Linked DNA regions of Homo sapiens: region 1 is linked to region 2. Evidence: fine-mapped expression QTL. A gene starts in region 2. The other region holds a variant in brackets. All regions are shown on one strand. Distances are from middle to middle. Region 1 holds the start of TMC6 (transmembrane channel like 6). Region 2 holds the start of SYNGR2 (synaptogyrin 2).

What was found. PIP is the estimated chance that this variant, and not a neighbour inherited with it, causes the effect.
Region 1: its variant is fine-mapped to the expression of SYNGR2 in whole blood (TOPMed, PIP above 0.99). The same link has a PIP of 0.9 or more in T cells.

Annotation. Positions count from the first base shown.
Region 1 is chr17:78,124,812-78,130,259 of GRCh38, reverse strand. TMC6 (transmembrane channel like 6) reads left to right here and starts at 1,505. Exons shown (of 20, transcript NM_001127198.5): 1 at 1,505-1,648; 2 at 3,354-3,483; 3 at 3,612-3,736; 4 at 3,894-3,983; 5 at 4,376-4,534; 6 at 4,997-5,102; 7 at 5,275-5,371. The coding sequence starts at 3,428. RefSeq lists silencers at 1,412-1,941, 3,212-3,291, 3,342-3,391, 5,222-5,448 and an enhancer at 2,622-2,871. The variant G/C (reference allele first, on the strand shown) is at 2,878.
Region 2 is chr17:78,166,432-78,171,431 of GRCh38, reverse strand. SYNGR2 (synaptogyrin 2) reads right to left here and starts at 2,851. Exons shown (of 4, transcript NM_004710.7): 1 at 2,717-2,851; 2 at 378-615. The coding sequence starts at 2,815. RefSeq lists silencers at 2,389-2,548, 2,579-3,188.

The sequences.
Region 1 (5,448 bases), 41 kb after region 2:
CTTGGTGTTACTGCTGTACTTCCAGCCCCTGTCATTGGCGTTATGGTTGTGCCAAGACCCAGGCCTAGCACCTGGCCGGTAGTAAGTGCTCAGGAATTGGCTCCATTCATGCTCTCCCAGGCTAGATGTTTAAGACATATCTTTGCCAATTCTCTGTCCTTGGGCCCCTGGGAAGCCCGCAGCCCTTCCTCTCTGCTCCCTCTCTACCTGCTATAGGGCCCAGTCATCTCAGGTCTGAATGTTCATAGCTTTTCTGCCTCTCTGCCCACCTCCTTCCTGGTTTCCAGAGTCCTTTCTGTGTGTCAGGCGCAAGCTATGTGCTGGTGCTGGGCACACAGTGGGCTGGGGTAGGAGGGGGCACAGAACCACAGATGTACATGTCAATAGGAAGTGGTAGGTGCTCCACCAGGGTTCAATCTGGGGAGGCTCCCCAGAGGAGGTGGCATTCATGCAAATTCAGTGTGGGTATGCAGGGAGGGGGAAGCAGTGGGAGGAGAGGCAGGGGCTGGGTCTCCATGCCAGGGTGCCACTTGCCAAGAACCAGCTTGGGGTAGCCATCTGAGGACCACACTGGCAGCTCCAAAAGGCCCCAGCCTTGACCCCTGCCTGGTCCTCGCTTTTGCTTGCCTGCTCTCCCCTGCAGCAGTGCCCTCTCCTGCCCTCCTGGGCCCCAGCTCACATTCACCCTGCCTGCTTCATGGCTTCTCCCCGCCAGGAATGACCCTCCCTTCCAAATGGGCTTGGGGTGGGGGGTACAATCTCAAAGGCAGTTTCCTCCATAGAGTTCCCAGGTGGACCACTAAGTCTCCTGCTTTGGCTGGGGGCACCCTAAAGGGTGATTAACTTCTCTCAGCCTCAGTTTCCTCATCTGTGAAATGGGAATATCAGTGCATACCTTCCTGGCTCATGGGGAATAACAGAAAACAGGGCAACGGGTACAGCACCTGGGGACAGTCACCTAAGTGTCAGCGTGTCCTCCTTTTCATCCCCTCCTCTCCACACAGCACACAGGAAGTGAGCCAGAACTCTTGCTAGATAAACAATGAACCCCGCCCAGGTGTCAGGAGTGGGAGATAACCAGGCTCCCCCCGCCGGGGTCGGGGAGAGTCAGCAGGAGGCTTGCGGGGGCGGCGGGGGGGGGGGCGCTGCCCAATCTGGAGTGAGATACTCTGTGTCCCTGGGGCTTTCGGCGGCATCTTACTTGGACGATCCCTAACCATGGGAAGCAGATGAGTCTGGAAATATTGCCCCTTTTTGGAACTTGGGGAAACTGAGCGTCAGAAAAATTGGGGACTTCAACCAGGGGCTGGAATGAATCCAGCCCAGCTCAGACCTCAGGAGGAGGGGTCGGAAGTTGGCAGGGGAGGAAGGCATAGTCGCCGCGGGGCGCCCGGAGGAGGGCGGGGGCGCCGCGGGCCGGGCCGGGTCACGTGATAGCCGAGGCCCGCCCCCCCCCCCCCCGCCCACGTGGGCCGGGAGGTGCGGCTACTCCCCCGGCCCCGGCAGACCTGCGACTGGCCCAGTCGCCCCTGGGGCCCTTTGCCACTCCCTTGGCAAGGAGAGCCGAGACCTCAGTTCCCGGCGGCTCTTGCGGGGCACAGGTGAGCCCTGGCTGCGCGCGCGGCCCCTCCTCCCCGGCGCCTCCCAGGTGAGCGGCCGCGATCCCGGTCCCGGGTCCCGCCAGCCCCAGCTGCTTCTCCTATGCGGGGACAGCGGCAATCCCCCCTGAATTCCTTTCGGCCTCTGGGGCCATTTGGCAGCCGAGTTCCCTCCCCGGGTGCTCCTGGAGCTCCCAGGGCTTGACCCTCCGGCTCGGACAGAGCTGGGAGCGGCAGGGGCGGGGAGGACAGTGCGGGGAGCAAAATCCGCAGCCCCCACCCAGGTCCCCCAGCCGAGCGCCAGGGCACGGGGAGGGGAGGGGAGGGGGTGTGGCCGGGATGGGAAGGGGCGGGGGACAGGGAGGCCGGCTGGACGGGTTCGGTGGCCCCAGAGTTGCAGCCGCTCTGGGCTCTGGGGCCAGGTTGCGGTTCTCCCTGGGTAGCGGCTGCTCCCGGGAAGCTCGCTGCCGGCTGGGGTGGGGGTTCCTGGAAACGGGCGCCACCCAGCCTCTCCCCACCTAGCTCAGGAATGGTGCGCCTGGAAACTCCGCTGGACTTGCCTGGGCCTCGGGGCGGAGTGCTGGGGCGCTGGGTGCCCGAGTCCCCGGGTTCCCTGAGCTTAGAAGGGCCTGTCTGGAGGAAGGGATTCCAGCTCTAGGGACTGGGTGGGGCGTCCTCAGCCCCTCTTTCGGCAGCTGTCCCGTGTTAGGCTGGGTGGGGCCGCCTCGGACCCAGCTCTGGGCTGGTTTTCCCACGTCTTTGCTCCTGCTGGAGGGAGGGGGTGGTGTGGGGCCTGGGCCCGAAGATGGCACCCAGGACACTGAGGGAGGGCGCCGTCCGGTCCTGTGACTGGCACCCCTGCAAGGAGCTGCTCTGTCGGGGCGCCCCCGGGCTTTGCCTGTCCGAGGAAAGCGCCCTTCAACCCGGCCGACTTTGAGCCCTGAGTTCCTGAGGGTGAGCGCAGGAGGAGTCCAGGGCAGAGGCCGGCAGGACTCGCTGGTGGCTGGGAGCTGAGTCCTGGCTCCACTCTCACAGATGAACGGGCCCCGAGCCCAGGGCCCCAGACAAGGCTGCTCTGGTTCCAGTTGTGCCGGGTGACGGCAGAGCCAGGACAAAGGAGGCCTGTTGAGGTCCTGGCCACCCCCAGCCGGCCGCCCTGGGATGATGGAATGCAGGGCAGTGGGTCTTCTGAGAACATGAGGACCTTGGCGCCCTGACGGCGGTGGCATGGAGTGACCTCTGTGTGTGGGGGAGGAGCCCCCTGTGCTGCTTCCGCCTG[G/C]GGCTGGTTGGGGGTGAGGGCTCCAGCAGCTAATTTCCTGCTAGAGGAAGTTCTTTGAGGTCACAGGGCAGACGCAGAGAAGGCCTACAGCCTACTCTGACCTTTCTCTCCAAAAAGGAGGTGTCTCTGTGCCAGAACCCTGGGCATGGAGATCCTGAAAGGGGCTGTGTCTACAGGCACCCTACCTCTTCCCCATTTCCCAGGGACTGGCGACATCGAGGAAACAGATGTGGAACTGCAGACCCCACACCCTTCCTTCCTCTCTCCCCTCCCCTGACACTGGAGGGGGCCCCCCATTCCATTCTGGCATGAGGCTTATTCGGTGCCTCACCATTTATGTACCTGGGGTGATAGGGGGGTGGGCGGGACTGTCTGGGCTGTGAGTGGCACCTCCTGTGGTTCCCCCAGGAATGGGTGGTGTGGACAGCTGCCAGGCGTTGAAGACCACCCCTGGCTCTGTGCCCCTGTCTCATCAGATGGGGGCTCCGGAGGTGGCGCCCAGGCTCTGAGCTACCCTAGGTCTGCAGACTAGCGGGCATTGGCCAGAGACATGGCCCAGCCACTGGCCTTCATCCTCGATGTCCCTGAGACCCCAGGGGACCAGGGGTAAGCGCTCTGGGGCTGGGGGCTGGAGGCTGGAATGTTCCACCCCCCACGGAGAGGTCACCTGAGCAGGGGCTGCTGGAAGGAGAGAGGTGGCTGGAGCCTGACCCCCCCGCCAACCCCCTCTGCAGCCAGGGCCCCAGCCCCTATGATGAAAGCGAAGTGCACGACTCCTTCCAGCAGCTCATCCAGGAGCAGAGCCAGTGCACGGCCCAGGAGGGGCTGGAGCTGCAGCAGAGAGAGCGGGAGGTGACAGGTGAGCTCAGGCCTGGATGCTGGGTGGTGTGGACCAAGACTTGGGTGCCCCAGCCCCTCAGGACGGGCCTCCCAGCTCTGCAGGCCTGGGATGGGGTGGGAGATACTGTGGCCAATGGCATCTCCAGGACCCCTGGTGAGTCTTTCTTGCTTTGTAGGAAGTAGCCAGCAGACACTCTGGCGGCCCGAGGGCACCCAGAGCACGGCCACACTCCGCATCCTGGCCAGCATGCCCAGCCGCACCATTGGTGAGTGGGACCCTCAGCCTCGGCCTCGGCCCCGGCCCCGAGTTGACCCCAGTCCCTGGGGCTGGGCTGGGCTTCCTGCCAGGCATCTCCCTGGGTAGTGGCTGCTCCCGTAGCTCAGAGCCAGGCCCAGGGCGGGCTCCTAGCCCATCCCATCTGCTGCCTGGGGGCCCAGCACAGCCCCATGTGGCCCTCGCTGGGCTCCAAAAATGACTCCAGAGTCATCACGGGGTAAAAATAGGCTTTCGGAATGCAGTGGTGCCTGAAGTCTTTGTTGAAAGGATTTTCCTGGGTCCTGGGAAGGGGTGAGGGACGCAGAGGCCTGTGGTGAGCCCATCCTGAGGGGAGGGAGGCCTGGCCCTGCCCGGCCCGGCCCTGCCCAGCTGCCTCCATAGGCCGCAGCCGAGGTGCCATCATCTCCCAGTACTACAACCGCACGGTGCAGCTTCGGTGCAGGAGCAGCCGGCCCCTGCTCGGGAACTTTGTCCGCTCCGCCTGGCCCAGCCTCCGCCTGTACGACCTGGAGCTGGACCCCACGGCCCTGGAGGAGGAGGGTGAGTGAGTGGGCACTGGAGCCCCAGTGGCGGACACCGGCCTGGGGTGGGGTGCAAGAGGCCAGCCTGGCCTGGGCGGTGGCTGGGGTGCTGCAGAGCCAGAGGCCCCTCTCCTATCCCTTAGCAGGCTGCCTGAAGGCCCCCCCGTCCCTCTGCAGGGACCCACGGGGACAGGGAAGTGGGGGTCTTACCTCACAAGCGCCTTGGAGTGCTTGGAGGGCTGTGGCCCTGGGCCCCGAGTCGGGGACCGTGCGTGGGAAACAGGCCCCTGTGCTCTGTGAGCTTCCTGCTTGTCGCTGACTGAAGCAAACACACGGCTGATTGGCGACTGAAGCTCAAATAAGGGCACCGAGGTGTCTCGGGACGGTGCCGCAGGGACACACAGGCCTGACCAGGGTCCCGGCTTCGGGCTGCAGGGAGGGGCACTTGGGGATGGGCAGGACCTCCCTCTCCCTCTCGCAGAGAAGCAGAGCCTCCTGGTGAAGGAGCTCCAGAGCCTGGCAGTGGCACAGCGGGACCACATGCTTCGCGGGATGCCCTTAAGCCTGGCTGAGAAACGCAGCCTGCGGTGAGCAGCCCCGACCCTGACCATGCCGCCGCTGCTGCGCCCCCAGACCCACTTCCTCAGCTGGGCTAGGTGGTGGGGGAGAAGGGGCTGAGCCCGTGGGTGGCCGGTCTCCAGGAAGGAGAGAGTCAGGCCCCTCATTGGTCCAGGCACCTATGGCTGCCTCTGTCCCCAGAGAGAAGAGCAGGACCCCGAGGGGGAAGTGGAGGGGCCAGCCGGGCAGCGGCGGGGTCTGCTCCTGCTGTGGCCGGCTCAGATATGCCTGCGTGCTGGTATGGGCCCCTGGTCTGCCCTGGGGCTGGGGCGGCTGGGCAGGGCTGGGGTGGCCTCAGTGCCTCCTCCGGCCTCA
Region 2 (5,000 bases):
TAGGGCAGGGACCTCCCGGGGGAGCCTCCACACTATGGAGGGGAGGACTTGGAAGCCGGGCCGGGAGCCACCTCCAAAGTCCCCCACACTCGGGCCTTGGCAGGGTGGGCCACAGCAGACAGCCTAGGGGACAAAAGGGGCAGAGGCAAAGCCCATCTGCTCGGGTGTGCTGCAGGTCCACTCAGCTTCTAGCTACCCCAGGCAGGGCTGGTGCCATTCAAGCACGGAAAAACACTAGCTGAAAACCCTTTCCTAAAAATGCCCTGGAGGAGTGAGCTGCTCCCTGCCCCTCCCAGAGAGGCCGAGACCCTCCCAGCTGCGGAACCCTAGAGTTAATGCCTCCCCCAAGATCAAATGGAGGTGCCACAGGCAGATACCTGAGAAGAGCAGGTCACCAATGACCAGGTACTTGCGGTCAGTGGCGTTGCTGATCTGGGGGAAATACGCGTCGACCACCAAGAAGAAGGCCGAGGCCAGGAAGGCCAGCACCCCGATGGCACTGCCATAGCGGCAGGCATCCTCGTTGCGGTTGAACACGCAGTACATCTGCTTAGACTCGTGGGCATTGCTGTAGCCCTCACCATAGATGCAGGAGAACACGATCAAGGCGAAGACCTGCCGGGAGGGGAGGACCTGGTAGGGCTGGTGGCCGCCTGAGGGGCACACACAGCGGGGACCCTGATGGGGTGTACAGATGCTGGCCTCTCCCACTACTGCTGTCCCCTTTTGGGTTTTTGTTGTTGTTTGAGATGGAGTCTTGCTCTTGTTGCCCAGGCTGGAGTGCAATAGTGCGATCTCGGCTCACTGCATCCTCTGCCTCCTGGGTTCAAGCAATTCTGCCTCAGCCTCCCTAGTAGCTGGGATTACAGGTGCCCTCCACCACACCCGTATTTTTAGTAGAGATAGGGTTTCACCATGTTGGCCAGGCTGGTCTGGAACTCCTGACCTCAGGTGATCCACCCTCCTCGGCCTCCCAAAGTGCTGGGATTACAGGCATGAGCCACCTCGCCCAGCCTGCTGTCCCCTTTTGGAGGCTGACATCTTAGCCCCTCCAAACTTGTGGAGGTGAGCTGATGAGCAAAGTGCTTCCTGATGCACCCCAGGATGAGAATCTGCAGGCACCAGGGGGCCTGCCCCTGGGAATCCTGGACCGGGGAGGGGTGGGGAATGGGCAGGGACCTCCTAGGCAGGGGCTGCTCCTGCCCCATCGGCCTGCTGCAGGAATCATTCTGCTTAGGTACCTGATGGATGAAGGGCAGTCCTTCCATCCCCAGCCCAACCTCACCTTGAAAGAGGTTTAACCAAGACAGGCCAAGTCACAAAGACTACCCATCCCCCGTCACCTTCAGCCCAAGTCACTTCTACAGCACCCAGCCTCTGCCTGAACACCTTGGTGAAGGTGGACAGGCCCTCTTGGGAAGGCCATGCTGGCGCCCCTGTGTCTTCACCTCCTGGAACCCCTGGAACCCTCCCTGGTTCAGCCTGGCCAGCTGTCTCCACACAAGGACTTGCAGCCTCTGTGGCATCCTGGTCCCTCCCAGTCTGTCTCCCACCCCACAGAGGGCCCTGCATGCACAGGGCACTACAAGGGGACTAACTCAGGCCTGTGGATACAGCTCTGAACTCAGACACCTGGAGGACCCAGGGTGGATGTAGGGGAGCTCCAGCCCCTTGGGAAGAGCCCCATACCACCTCCCTAAACTTGAAGGCCACCACCCACGCCTGCTCCACCTCAGCAGGTGTGGGACAGGTCTGTGAGCATCAGGATCCCTCTGGGATGGCCCCAGGACTCTCCCCTGCCAGTCCTGCCCTGTTGTCCCAGGGAGCTCTCCATAGGGCTCTGGAGCTGGCAGTCACAGGCCCCGCCCCCAGATGGAGATGAAGCCGGATCTCCGGGATGATGGGAGCAGGGTGCCCATCCAGGACTCCTGGCACTGCCATCCCGACCCACTGGGCACCTGATTCTTGGACACAGCCCAGGACAGAGGCGATCAGATCCCACAGCCTGGCTGGGAGCTGGTGTGGGCGCCCTGGAGGACCTCAGAAGCTCCAGGCCCAGGCATGGTCTGGGCACAGCAGGCCCACCTCTGCCTGCCCCCTCATGCCACCCCCTCCAGCTTTCAGGGCTGGCTGTCCAAGAACAGGCCCCCTCCCCGCCACACACACACACACACAAAACCTGGTTTTGGAGGTATTGCCCACCTTACAGGGAGGGGGTACATCTTGGGGTCCCTCAACTTCGGGTGGGAAGGCGGACCCGTGGCCTGCCCCGAGTGGGAAGGACACCCTGTTTCCGGGCGTTGGGTCGCCCCCCGCCCCCTCCCTTACCCCACGTGGCTTCGGAAAACCCCGTCCCGGTGAACTCCCCAATCTGGGAGTCGCGGCGTGCGGGCCACCTGTCCGGGAGCCGCCCCCAAACTCCTCCCACTGCCAGCGAGGCAGGGGCCCGCTCCCTGCGGAGATCCGGACACCCCGCGTCGGGGCGCGAGGCTGGGGGTGGGGTGGGTGGCGGGACCCGGGACCGGGAGGGGACAGCGGGACAGACTGTGGAGGGCGGGAAGGCGGGGCCCGGGACGCTGGACGCCGGCCCCGCTCGCCGCCAGGCCCCGGACGCGGCCGCCGCCACCTGTCGCGCTCGTGGGCTAGGGGCCCCGCCGGGCCTGGCGACGGAGAGGGGGTCCCCAGGGTGCCCTCGGCCCGCCCTCCCCGGGCTCACCAAGCACACGGCGCGCGCCACCACCTGCGGCTGCGTCAGGAAGCGCCGCAGGTCGAAGGAGCCGCCCGCCTTGGCCGCGCCGTAGGCCCCGCTCTCCATGTCGCCGTCGCCGCCGCTGCCGCCGCCGCGGAACGCAGAGGAACCTGCCCGGCGCCCCGCCCGACTCCACCCGCCGGGGGCGTGGCCAGGCGCCGCTAGGGACCGAGGGCAAAGTGCGGCCCTCGCGAGCGGCGGGCGAGCCGCGGGACTGCGCTTCTAGAGGCGGGGAGGGGCTGTGGCCGCGGAGCACCCGGGTCCACCCCACCTCGGGGTTGAGGGGCTAGTCTCCGGGCCACGCCGGCCGCAGCACGGACCAGAAAGGGTCAGAGAGTCCCCCGGGAAGACGGACGAACTGAGGACCGCTCACCCTCTTTGCCCCTGCCCTCCCACCGCCTCCTCTAGGAAGCCCACCACCTACCAAGAACCCACCCAGGCTCATAAGCAACCCCTCCCCCATCCCACTGAAAAACCCAGGCCACACCCTGGAGCCCCTCCCTGCCTGGCCTGCCACTCTTTCCTCCTCTCTGGGGCTAAGCCTGGGGTAGGGTCAAAGACCCCCTCCCCATTCCTCCTGGTCTGGGCAGAGCCCCAAGGCTGTGAAGGGCAGTGTGGCGTCACACTTAAGATGGTGTGCAAGGCCGGGAGCGGTGGCTCACACCTGTAATCCCAGCACTTTGGGAGGCCGAGGCGGTTGGATCACCTGAGGTCAGGAGTTCGAGACCAGCCTGACCAACATGGAGAAACCCCGTCTCTACTAAAAATACAAAAATTAGCCTGGTGTGGTGGTGCATGCCTGTAATCCCAGCTACTCGGGAGGCTGAGGCAGGAGAATCGCTTGAACCTGGGAGGTGGAGGTTGCGGTGAGCCGAGATTGTGCCATTGCACTCCAGCCTGGGCAACAAGAGCAAAACTCTGTGTCAAAAAAAAAAAAAAAAAAAAAAAAAAAGATGGTGTGCAAGGCCGGGCGCAGTGGCTCACACCTGTAATCCCAGCACTTTGGGAGGCCGAGGCGGTTGGATCACCTGAGGTCAGGAGTTTGAGACCAGCCTGGCCAACATGGTGAAACCCCGTCTCTACTAAAAATACAACAACAACAAAAAAATTAGCTGGGCGTTGTGGTAAGCGCCTGTAATCCCAGCTACTTGGGAGGCTGAGGCAGGATAATTGCTTGAAACCGGTAGGCAGAGGTGGCCGTGTGCTGAGATCGAGCCACTACACCCCAGCCTGGGCAACAGAGCAAGAGTCCATCTCAAAACAAACAAAACAAACAAACAAACAAACAAACAAACAAAACCAAAAACGAAAGTTAGCGAGGCGTGGTGGCAGCTACTAGCAGTCCCAGCTATTCCAGAGGCTGAGGTGGGAGAATTGTCTGAGCCCAGGAGGCGGAGTTTGCAGTGAACCAAGATCACGCCTTTGCACCCCAGCCTGGGTGACAGAGTAAGACCACATATCGGCCGGGCGTGGTGGCTCACGCCTGTAATTCCAGCACTTTGGGAGGCTGAAGCAGGCGGATCACGAGGTCAGGAGATCGAGAACACCCTGGCCAACATGGTGAAACCCCGTCTCCACTAAAAATACAAAAATTAGCTGGGCATGGTGGCGCGTGCCTGTAGTCCCAGCTACTTGGCAGGCTGAGGCAGGAGAATCGCTTGAACCCGGGAGGCGGAGGTTGCAGTGAGCCGAGATTGCACCATTGCGACAGAGCGAGACTCCATCTCAAAAAAAAAAAAAAAGAAAAGACCACATATAAAAAAATATATATATGGCATGCAAACAGAAATGAAGTTTTCAGGGCGACAGGCAGATGGCAAAGTTTAATCCAGTTCCAGTTCAGCCCCCTCTCGCCTCCGTCCCTCTCTACCTCCATCCCAAGAAAAACCGGTACAGAGGGTCTGGTGCAGGGTAGGCTGGGGCAGGCTCTGTGTGTGTTGGAGTGGGGAGCGGAGGTTGTACAGACAGAGGTGTGGGATCACAGGCTGACTGAACCCGGAAGAATTCCAGACCCCCCTTTGCTAGTTGCAGGTGCAGATTAACAACAGCAGGTGTGCCAGGTGGGGCTCACAGTCAACCCAGGTGAGCTGGACCACGTGAGAGTTGAACCATAGGACTGGGCCACCAGGAGGTGGGGTGCCTCTCCAGGGAAGAGGGGAGCAGGTGGGGGGGAGGGGCTGGGCCTTTTCGCAGTGTGCCCCCCTCCCTCTCCCTACACCCAGAGAGATGTGACAGCACCTGAGAGGCGAGG